3 linked regions of the Homo sapiens genome follow. The protein of the gene in region 1 interacts with the protein of each later gene in a biochemical or structural test. Each region holds a gene or a part of one and is shown in the gene's direction. Other genes may lie near its edges. The genes, in order: NUP98, TNPO1 and NUP88.

What was found.
Region 2: the proteins of NUP98 (region 1) and TNPO1 form a complex in vitro, tested with the Homo sapiens proteins (one study listed by BioGRID).
Region 3: the proteins of NUP98 (region 1) and NUP88 form a complex in vitro, tested with the Homo sapiens proteins (2 studies listed by BioGRID).

The regions. Positions count from the first base shown.
Region 1 is NC_000011.10:3,721,053-3,724,707, reverse strand, and holds part of NUP98 (nuclear pore complex protein Nup98-Nup96 isoform 1 precursor), read left to right. Parts: intron 1-1,252; coding exon 1,253-1,551; intron 1,552-3,655. UniProt on the Homo sapiens protein: Plays a role in the nuclear pore complex (NPC) assembly and/or maintenance. NUP98 and NUP96 are involved in the bidirectional transport across the NPC. May anchor NUP153 and TPR to the NPC.
Region 2 is NC_000005.10:72,893,038-72,896,692, forward strand, and holds part of TNPO1 (transportin-1), read left to right. Parts: intron 1-101; coding exon 102-209; intron 210-339; coding exon 340-498; intron 499-578; coding exon 579-666; intron 667-3,420; coding exon 3,421-3,519; intron 3,520-3,655. UniProt on the Homo sapiens protein: Functions in nuclear protein import as nuclear transport receptor. Serves as receptor for nuclear localization signals (NLS) in cargo substrates.
Region 3 is NC_000017.11:5,413,161-5,416,815, reverse strand, and holds part of NUP88 (nuclear pore complex protein Nup88), read left to right. Parts: intron 1-133; coding exon 134-303; intron 304-2,681; coding exon 2,682-2,807; intron 2,808-3,655. UniProt on the Homo sapiens protein: Component of nuclear pore complex.

The DNA.
Region 1 (3,655 bases):
GATTCTCCTGCCTCACCCTCCCATGTAGCTGGGAATACAGGCACCCGCCACCATGCCTGATTAATTTTTGTATTTTTAGTAGAGACGGCGTTTCACCTTGTTAGCCAAGGATGGTCTCGAGCTCCTGACCTCAAGTGATCTGCCCGCCTTGGCCTCCTAAAACGTTGGTATTACATGCGTGAGCCACCGTGCCCAGCCTTGTACAGTGATTCTTAATAGTTAGGTATATATTCTTTCATATCAGAAATTTATTTATTTATTTTTTTTTTTTGAGATGGAGTTTTGCTCTTATTACCCAGGCTGGAGTGCAGTGGCACGATCTCGGCCCACTGTATCCTCTGATGTGAATTGTTCAAGCAATTCTCCTGCCTCAGCCTCCTGAGTAGCTGGGATTACAGGCATGCACCTCCACGCCCAGCTAATTTTTTTTGTATTTTTAGTAGAAACAGGGTTTCGCCATGTTGGTCAAGCTGGTCTTGAACTCCTGACCTCAAGCGATCCACCCGCCTCGGCCTCACAAAGTGCTGGGATTACAAGCGTTATCCACCACACCCAGCCGAAATTTCTTTCTTTATAAATATATTTTATTATATAAAGATTATGCACGAATGATATATTCTGTAACCTGCTTATTTCCATTTATTTTATTAGAAATGCCTTTCCATTATCTGTATGAATATATTTGTCTTTTCTTTTTTAATGATTGCATAAGTCATTATTGTGAATGTAAGATAACTTGACCAGTTCCTTGTTAGTGGACATTTAGATTATCCGGTATTCCTGTACTCAAAACAGTGCTTCAGTAAAAATCCTTATATACTGGCACAAGTTCTCAGGGCCTCCTGAGGGCTGTATCACGAAAAAGAAAAAAAAAAAAAGAAACCCTTTGTATAGACACCTTTGTACTCCTGTTTTTTTTTTCTTTTGGATAAAATTCTAGTGTTTTTTATTATTATTATTATTTATAAAGCATTTTTTAACATTTTGTTGATTGTAATCTTAAAAATCTAACATTTTTTTCAGTTTTTAATCTTAAAATTAACCAATTATTTGATTCCATATAGGAGAGTATACAATAGAGATAGTAATTATCTGTTTCACAGTACTGCTGTAGTAAGTATTAAGTGAATTTTTAATACATGGAACTATCCAGAACAGTGCCAGGCACTTAGTAAAGGCTCGGTATTAGTTAGCTATTATCATTGTTATTACTACTACAAGAGGCTAAGGTATTATTTCTTTTCCTTTGCAGATTTAGTTTCCTAAGCAAACCTGTTGATGAGAATCACCAGCAGGATGGAGATGAAGATTCCCTTGTTTCACATTTTTATACTAACCCTATTGCCAAACCTATTCCTCAAACCCCAGAAAGTGCTGGAAATAAACACAGCAACAGCAACAGTGTGGATGATACCATTGTTGCATTAAACATGCGTGCTGCTTTGCGAAATGGGCTGGAAGGAAGCAGTGAAGAAACGTCTTTTCATGATGAGTCACTTCAGGATGACCGAGAAGAAATAGAAAATAATTCTTACCATATGCACCCAGCAGGTCAGGTTCAGATTGGTGCATGTTTAATCTCTTACCAGTCATTCGAGATGACTTGCTTGTTGCAGATATTCAACATATGGAAGTCAGCTGTTTGGCATTTTAAGTATTATTTTATGTGATCCCACATAGGAGAGCTTAATATTTAAACAGTTTTATGCTTTAGTTGATTCAGAGTTCACATACTCTTTGGACCTTAGAGTATGAAAATTGATACATCTTTAATTATCCTGGTGTAGTCTAAAGAACCCAAATTTTATAGCCAAAGAGACTATCCTGATATTTTCCCTGGCTTTGTAAACTCGGATAGATTGCTTATTGTTTTTTGTTTGTTTGTTTGTTTTTTCTTGAGACAGTGTCGCTCTGTCGCCCAGGCTGGAGTGCAGTGTCGCAGTCTTGGCTCACTGCAACCTCAACCTCCAGGGATCAGGACCTCTCATCTCAGCCACCCGAGTAGCTGGCACTACAGGCACATGATACCACACCCCGTTAAGTTTTGCATCTTTTGTTTTGCCATGTTTCCTGGGCTGGTCTCAAAATCCTGGGCTCAAGTGATCCTCCTATCTTGGCCTCCCAAAGTGCTAGGATTACAGGCATGAGCCACCATGCCCAGCCCATTTTGGGTGTTTTGTGGTATTCTTGAAGTGTCTCCAAAATTTATATTTAGTTTTCTTATTGCCATTATATATATATATATATTTGGTTACTTAGTATCATAAGGAAAGAAGTTTATACTTTGACAGTAAGAATCCCAGGTAGCCTGGGTGTGGTGGCTCAGCACTTTGGCAGGCTTAGGTGGGAGGATCGTTTGAACCCAGAAGTTTGAAATCAGTCTGGGCAACATAGCAAGACCTGATATCTACAATAAACTTAAAAGTAATTAGCCAGGTGTGGTGGCATGTACCTGTAGTTGCAGCTACTACGGAAGCTGAGGTGGGAGGATCACTTGAACCCAGGATTCAAGGTTGCAGTGAGCTATGATTATGCCACTGAACTCCAGCCTGGGTTGACAGACCAAGATCCTGTCTCCTAAAAAAAAAAAAAAAAAAAAAAAGAATTCCAGGTGCTTAATCTGTATTTGTGTATGTATCTCTACATGAATTTATTATGCTACTATATATCTTTTTAATAGGAAGTTTTATATTCTAGTTTTTTCATTTACCTTGTTTGCTGCCACCCAATTTAGAGTTCCCTTCCCAAGAAGCAAGTATACAAGTGGGTGTTGCTGGAGGCTGGAGTTTGGTCTGATGTTGGCCTGAAATACTTTTCTCTCAGAGAGCAAGTTAGCCTTATATCTGACTACAAGTAGGACAAGGAGTGAATAGAGCAAGCAAGCACACCAGCGTTCCACTACTTTCCTTGAGTTTTTCAGCGCTCTGCTTTTTTTATTTTGGTATTTTTTTTTCTATTTTAATTTATTCTTTCTTTCTTCTTTTCTTCCTTCCTCCCTCCCTCCCTTCCTTCCGAGTTTCACTCTTGGTTGCCCAGGCTGGAGTGCAGTGGTGTGATCTCAGCTCACTGCATCCTCTGCCTCCCAGGTTCAAGCGATTCTCCTTCCTCAACCTCCCGAGTAGCTGGGATTACAAGCACCCGCCACCATGCCCAGCTAATTTTTGTATTTTTGGTAGATAATGGATTTTTGCCATGTTAGCCAGGCTTGTCTTGGACTCCTGGCCTCAAGTGATTTACTCACCCCGGCCTCCCAAAGTCCTTGGATTACAGGCATGAGCCACCTTGCCTGGCTGGATTTTTCATCTTTCTTTTAGCTCTTTATTTGGGAGTGTAAATTTGAAAAATAAAAGAGGTTTATGCAAAACAGGCAATGAAACAAGAAGAATTGGGTTTGGAGTTTTATATCTACTTCTATTGTTAAATTACAGTATAAGCCAACACAAGTTATTTCCACTGTAGGTTTTGGTATCCTTGTGTGTAAAATAAAATAAAAAGCTGATTAAGCTTTTCTCAGAGTATTTTATGAGATACCTTTTATAGTCCGGGATGTTAATGGGTGTCCTTTGAAAATAATGTTCTGTGGTTAAATCTGGAAAAACACGAGGTTAAGCAGAGTTTAATAGGCTATTTACTGTAAGTTTTAGACTCTTTGATG
Region 2 (3,655 bases), on another chromosome or scaffold:
AGCTCATAAATGATCAGGATCCTGTTGAGCGCAGTTTCAAGCATTCATCATAATCTTCAGTATACCCAGAAAGTTTAGCATGTGTACTTTATTCTTCCTAGTGCCTATCTTCAGTTGCCACAGCACTGCAGTCTGGATTCCTTCCGTACTGTGAACCTGTGTATCAGCGTTGTGTAAACCTAGTACAGAAGACTCTTGCACAAGCCATGGTAATTTTTTTAAAATGTCTTCCTCTTCTTGACATGGTGGACATTTTTCTAAAGATAGGTATAATGTATACAGACTTTTTAAGTAGTTAATTAAAACCAAACTTACAAAAAACATTGTGTCTAATTTCAGCTAAACAATGCTCAACCAGATCAATATGAAGCTCCAGATAAAGATTTTATGATAGTGGCTCTTGATTTACTGAGTGGCCTGGCTGAAGGACTTGGAGGCAACATTGAACAGCTGGTAGCCCGAAGTAACATCCTGACACTAATGTATCAGTGCATGCAGGTGAGACTTGAAAGGTGAAAATGAATTGAAGCCTGTTTCTCTGTGTCACATTGGGGTTAATTTCTTCTTATTTCTTGTAGGATAAAATGCCAGAAGTTCGACAGAGTTCTTTTGCCCTGTTAGGTGACCTCACAAAAGCTTGCTTTCAGCATGTTAAGCCTTGTATAGGTATGAATATTTTCTACTGCTATGAATATGGTTTTTTAAAGTTAACATTTACATCAGCTTTGTTTTTTTATTATTAAACTGAAATTGCATGGAATCCCAACATTTATAAATGTACACTTTATTGGTTAAAGTAAACTTGCTGTGATTGAAACAGGCAAGATGGCAGGAACCCCTAATATTTCCTTGAGCTTGCCATCATCTCAGCTTTTTAGGTACTCCTGTGACTGGAGGAAAGCTTAGTAATATACTTTAGAGTAAAGGACATGCCCACCAGGGAAGCCTTGGTACCATGGACTAGTTAATAGATTCTTTTTTGAGTAGCCACCTTTTTGGTAGAGGTACACAGAAATAGTAATAATCAGGTTTTCTTCTCTAGCAAACCAGCATACTTTTTCAGATATTGCAGAAAACTTCCAACAAATGTCACTTTAACTGAGACTGGGCCTGGGGGCTCACACCTGTAATGCCAGCACTTTGGGAAGCCAAGGCAGGCAGATCACTTGAGGTCAGGAGTGCGAGATTCGAGACTAGCATAGCATTTGTCTTGGCCTTCTGTGACAATGATAAGAAATTCCTTGAATGTTGTACCCGGAATTGTTCTTAAACCTATGGGTTATAAATGAGTTATGGGATTTTTTTCCCCCTTTTCTGCATCTCAGCATGTTGGGTAACAATTATTTTAATACAGCCGGGCACGGCGGCTCAGACCTGTAATGCCAGCACTTTGGAAGGCCAAGGCGGGCAGGTCACGAAGTCAGGAGATCAAGACCATCCTGGCTAACACGGTGAAACCCCGCTTCTACTAAAAATACAAAAACTTAGCCAGGCGTGGTGGCTTGTGCCTGTAGTTCTAGCTACTTGGGAAACTGAGGCAGGAAAATCGCTTGAACCCGGGAGGCAGAGTCTGCAGTGAGCTGATACTGTACCACTACACTCCAGCCTGGGCAACAGAGCAAGACTCCGTCTCAAAAAAAATTATTTTAATACTTCATTTAAACCTTAATTTAAAATATTAATTGAATGTTTTGTCATCTGATATAATTGTGCTTTTGGATAACCATTTCTCAAAAAACTAACATAATTAACATTAATTATGATATATTAAGAACCATCAAGTTTAAACCTAACAGTGTAATGAATTCTTATGGGAAGCTTATCATTCTCATATTTACCACCTAATTTAGTTTTTTAGTTGAAACTTATATGAAAGGATTTAATTTTTTTATTATAAAGTGTTTAAGACGTACAAAAGTAGAAAAAATGTAACAAACCTCCTATCACCCAGCTTCAACTGTCCAGTCCTGTTTCCTATATACTGTTGTCAGTGGTGAGACACATAGATCTCAGATATTTTGGAGCAAATCTCAAACACAGCATTTGAAGTCTTAATATTTTAGTACATACTATACTATCTCTTCTTACAATTGTTTTTTGTTAAAGAAACCATGTTTTTTATTCTAAAGAGTTTCCTTTACTGTGGATTTTACTGATTGCATCTTTGTTGTCTTTAACATGTTCCTCTGTCCGTTGTATTTACTGTAAATTGTTTGGATACAGAGACTGAGGTTTAATGAGATTTACGTTGTTTTGTTTTTAAGACTTTATAGATGGTATTGTGTACTTAGTGTACATAGTGTCTAGTTGTCCCTCCTTTTTTTTTTTTTAATGTTACCAATCTTGATGATTGTCTCAATTAGTGGTTCTCAACTAGGGGCAATTTTGCCATTCGGGGAACATTTGCCAGTGTCTGGAGACATTTTGTTTGATGCTGGAGAGGTGCCATTGATGTCTAGTGGGTAGAAGCAAAGGATGTTGCTAAACATCTTATAATACAGGAGACAGCTCCCCTTCCCCCCAACAAAAAAATGATCTGGCCCAAACTGTCAATATTGCTGAGATCAAGAAACCCTGGCTTACATCTCCTGATTTATTAGGAGTTTAAAAAATTATGATATTCTAATTCTTCATTTAATAATGAAGATACTTATATAGGGAGACATTTCCCATATCAATAAATTACTATCCTGAGGTAAAATCATATAGCAGAGGCAAGATAAATACTTGATTCTTTTTTTTATTTACCAATTTTCAAAATAATGAATTGATTCCTATCATCCTCCAAAGGTATCTTTGATGTTTCAGAGTTTTGTTTTTGTTTGATTGTTTTTAGTGCTAGTGTGACTTCATGATGTTCAAGCTGTTGTACTGCTTGCAGTGAGAACTTAAGTTGGCTCCCGAGTCCTTTCATTATGACAAGATAGTCCACTTATTTTGCACATTTCCTGCCTTTGCCTGTAATGTGACGTTTTCTGAGAGTCCATTTTTTTTTAGTGGAAAATGTTATTCAGAGACCACAATCAGAGCACAAGAGTGAAAATTGCTTTAAAAGCCAAAATCATTGATTTTTTTTTTTTAGTCTAATTACAAGAGATTACTCTGACCAACTCTTTTTAGTGGTATGTAAAATATACCCAAACTTGTATTTCCTGTTCCACATTATTTGAAAGTTCATTGGCCAGATACTGTTTTCTTCAGTTTCTTAAGATAAACATTACCAACTCCTTTAAAAAATATTTTTAAATACAGTTGCCTAGTTTATTTCCACCAATTTTAAAATTGATGTTGCAGTAATTTTTTTAATGGTGAAACTTGTTATTTCTTGCTTAGATTTCTGTTTCCACCTAGTAGATTTCCTTTAAAGTACAATATACTGCTATTGAAAAGTTTACTACATAGTTTAAATTTTTTTTCTAGCTGATTTCATGCCAATATTGGGAACCAACCTAAATCCAGAATTCATTTCAGTCTGCAACAATGCCACATGGGCAATTGGAGAAATCTCCATTCAAATGGGTAAGATGTTTTTCCCTATTTAAAAGCATAAGGCCTGGCGCGGTGGCTCACGCCTGTAATCCCAGCACTTCGGGAGGCTGAGGCGGGCAGATCACCTGAGGTCAGGAGTTTGAGACCAGCCTGGTTGACATGGTGA
Region 3 (3,655 bases), on another chromosome or scaffold:
CAAGTGTGAGTACTTATCCAGAGTTTTATTATCCTATAATTGTAGTAAACTAAGTATTACTGTGATTTCAAGTAACTGCCACCTATATTTAAATTAAAATTAACTATGTTGACTGGTTTGCTCTAATTTTCAGAGATTGCTTTGCATAAATCCACCCCTGTTTGAAATCTATCAAGTCTTGTTAAGCCCAACACAACATCATGTAGCACTTATAGGAATAAAAGGACTTATGGTATTAGAATTACCTAAAAGATGGGGGAAGAATTCTGAATTTGAAGGTGGAAAATCAACAGTGAATTGTAGGTAAGTTGTATACTATTTATCTGTATAATTTATTATATATACAGAAAATTGTTCAAGACTAGTGGTTCTTAAGCATGTTTAGTATACTACTCTTAAAACATTAAAACACTCCTCGTGGTCTGCAGACTGGCTTCTGTGTTATCAATGTTCATAGTATATGTGTAATTGATTGTACTTTATTCTGCCTGAAGTACCACGTTGCTGTCTCATTTGAGGCTAGGCCATTCTTTCGATTAGGTAGAAGTAAGATTTTGTAAAACCAGTTATCTGTCAGCCAGAAGTTTGCCAGAAGTGTAAGTATTTTATGTGTGTGTGTGTGTGTGTATGTGTGTATATATATATATACTTTTTTTTTTTTTTTTTTTTTTGAGATGGAGTCTTGCTCTGTCACCCAGGCTGGAGTGCAGTGGCACAATCTCGGCTCACTGCAAGCTCCGCCTCCTGGATTCAAGCGATTCTTCTGCCTCAGCCTCCCGAGTAACTGGGATTACAGGCAAGCGCTACCATGCCCAGCTAATTTTTGTATTTTTAGTAGAGACGGGGTTTCACCATGTTGACCAAGCTGGTCTTGAACTCCTGACCTCAAGTGATCCACCCACCTTAGCCTCCCAAAGTGCCGGGGTTATAGGTGTGAGCCACCGCACCTGGCCTATTTTTATATAATTTCTTTTTCAACAAATCCAGAAAAGTGAATCTGAAAGATCTACTGAAAAGAGTACAGATGCTTTTCAACTTACGATTGGGTTATGTCCCGATAAACCCAGTGTAAGTTGAAAATGGATTTATTGCTGACAACACAGCAGAGGATCCCCGATTTAGGATGGTTCAACGTAGGATTTTTCAACATTATGATGGGTAACCCCATCATAAGTCGTAAGGAGCTCCTCAGTTTATGTTGGCTTATGTACTGGTAAACCCATTGTAAAGTTGGGGATCATCTGTATAAGGTAGAAACTGCTTTTAGCTCCGCAACTTATAAGTTGAGTCCCCTTAAACTGTTTACCTTCTAAATCTGTTTCCTCATTTTAAAAATAGGATTGATAATATCTGCCCTTGTAATTTCCTTACAGGGTTAGTAAAAAGATCAAATGAGATACTATATCTGAAAACACTTGTACTGTATAAATATGTATCAATCCTAAGTCAAACCATCCTAAAATGTATATATACGTATGAAATATGCTATAATTTGGAGCCAGGCACGATGGCTCACACCTGTAATCCCAGCACTTTGGGAGGCCGAGGCAGGTGGATCACCTGAGCTCAGGAGCTTGAGACCACCCTGGGCAACATGGTGAAACCTCATTTCTACTAAAATACAAAAAATAAGTGGGGTGTGGTGGCACACGCCTGTAGTCCCAGCTACTCAGGAGGTTAAGGCACAAGTATTGATTAAATCCAGGAGGCGGAGGTTGCAGTGAGCAAAGATCACGCCACTGCACTCCAGCTTGGGCCACAGAGTGAGACTTCATCTCAAATAAATAAACAAATAAAATTTAAATAAATAATTTAAATTATTAAAATAAATAAATTATTTATTTATTTTGAGACAGAGTCTGGCTCTGTAGCCCAAGCTGGAGTGCAGTGGCGTGATCTCAGCTCACTGCAACCTCCTCAGCCCGGGCTGGAGTGCAGTGGCACAAGCTCAGCTCACTGCAGCCTCCACCTCCTGGGTTCCAGCGATTCTTCTGCCTCAGCCTCACGGGTAACGGGTTACAGGCATGTGCCACCACACTTGCCTAATTCTTGTATTTTTAGTGGAGACGGGGTTTTACCATGTTGGCCAGGCTGGTCTCAAACTCCTGACCTCAGGTGATCCACCTGCCTTGGCCTCCCAAAGTGCTAAGATAGGCGTGAGCCATTGCGCCCAGCCAGTGTGCTATAATTTAGAAGATATTTTTATTTCAATTCTTTGATATTGATTGAATAGATGCCTTGAATGTCCTCTCAGCATGATTTCAGGGAAATAAATCTGAAGGAAAGAGAATCAAAGAGTGTTAAAATAGAAATTTCTTCAGGGCCTGGCGTGGTGGCTCATGCCTGTAATCCCAGCACTTTGCGAGGCCGAGGTGGGCAGATCACCTGAGGTCGGGAGTTTGAGACCAGCCTGACCAACATGGAGAAACCCCCTCTCTACTGAAAATACAAAGTTCGCTGGGCGAGGTGGCAGGTGCCTGTAATCCCAGCTACTTGAAAGACTGAGGCAGGAGAATCACTTGAACCTGGGAGGCGGAGGTTGCAGTGAGCCGAGATTGTGCCGTTACACTCCAGCCTGGGCAACAAGAGAGAAACTCCATCTGCAAAAAAAAGAAGTTCCTTTAGAAGATTTTCATCCAAGTTGTACAAAATGTTTTGGAAAATTATTATCTTTATTTTAGTACCACTCCAGTTGCGGAGAGATTTTTCACCAGTTCCACCTCTCTGACTCTAAAGCATGCTGCATGGTATCCAAGTGAAATCCTGGATCCCCACGTAGTGCTGTTAACATCAGACAACGTAATCAGGTAAATTTTATTTCTCTCTCTTGAAGCCTTGCGAGTGGGAAAGCTCTGTTTCTGTTTGCCAATTAACAGCTCAACATAGAACGAAGTGAGTCATTGAATGAGTCAGTGCTTTTATTGGATGGCTGTTGTAACCCATTCTCAATCATAAGAATTGCCTAACTGCTCTAACTTACCACTATTCCTTCTCAACTAGTCTTCCTGCCTCCAGGTATCTCCTCTCCTAATCTGACACCTTAGAATAATCTTTCCAAAACTCTTTCATCATTGTCACCCTTTTGGTAATAATGTAGCATAAAGGAAAGAGAATGTAAGTGTAAATTTAGAGATTTGAATTATTGTCCCACCTCCTTTTCTGTTATCTTTGAGATCTTGAGCTTTTTAGGGGTTGGGGGGCTCAGTTTCCAATCTTTTAAATTGAGCAGGTTTGATTCAATAGTTTCTAACGCCCCTTCCAAGCTTTGCACTCTATGATTAAATGCCCTAATGCTACGTAGATTTCTACTCTATTATCAGCTAACTTTCTGGATCGGCCTTATGTAAAAAGTTATTGGGGGGACTCAGCAGAGGTACAGATACCTTCAGTTTTATTTTTCGTAATCACTGCTTTTAACTGTGCTCTACTAAATCTTCCTTCACTGCTGAATGACTCACCCCTTAATGATGTCTTATACAGATCCCCATAGCTTTCTCGTTACTTCTAGTTATGAAAACAGTGTGTCCAGTTTAAAACTCATCTTGGCTGGTTGCAGTGGCTCACACCTGTAATCCCAGCACTTTGGGAGGCCGAGGTGGGAGGATCATTTGAGCCCCTGAGTTCGAGACCAATGTGGGCAATACAGTGAGATCCT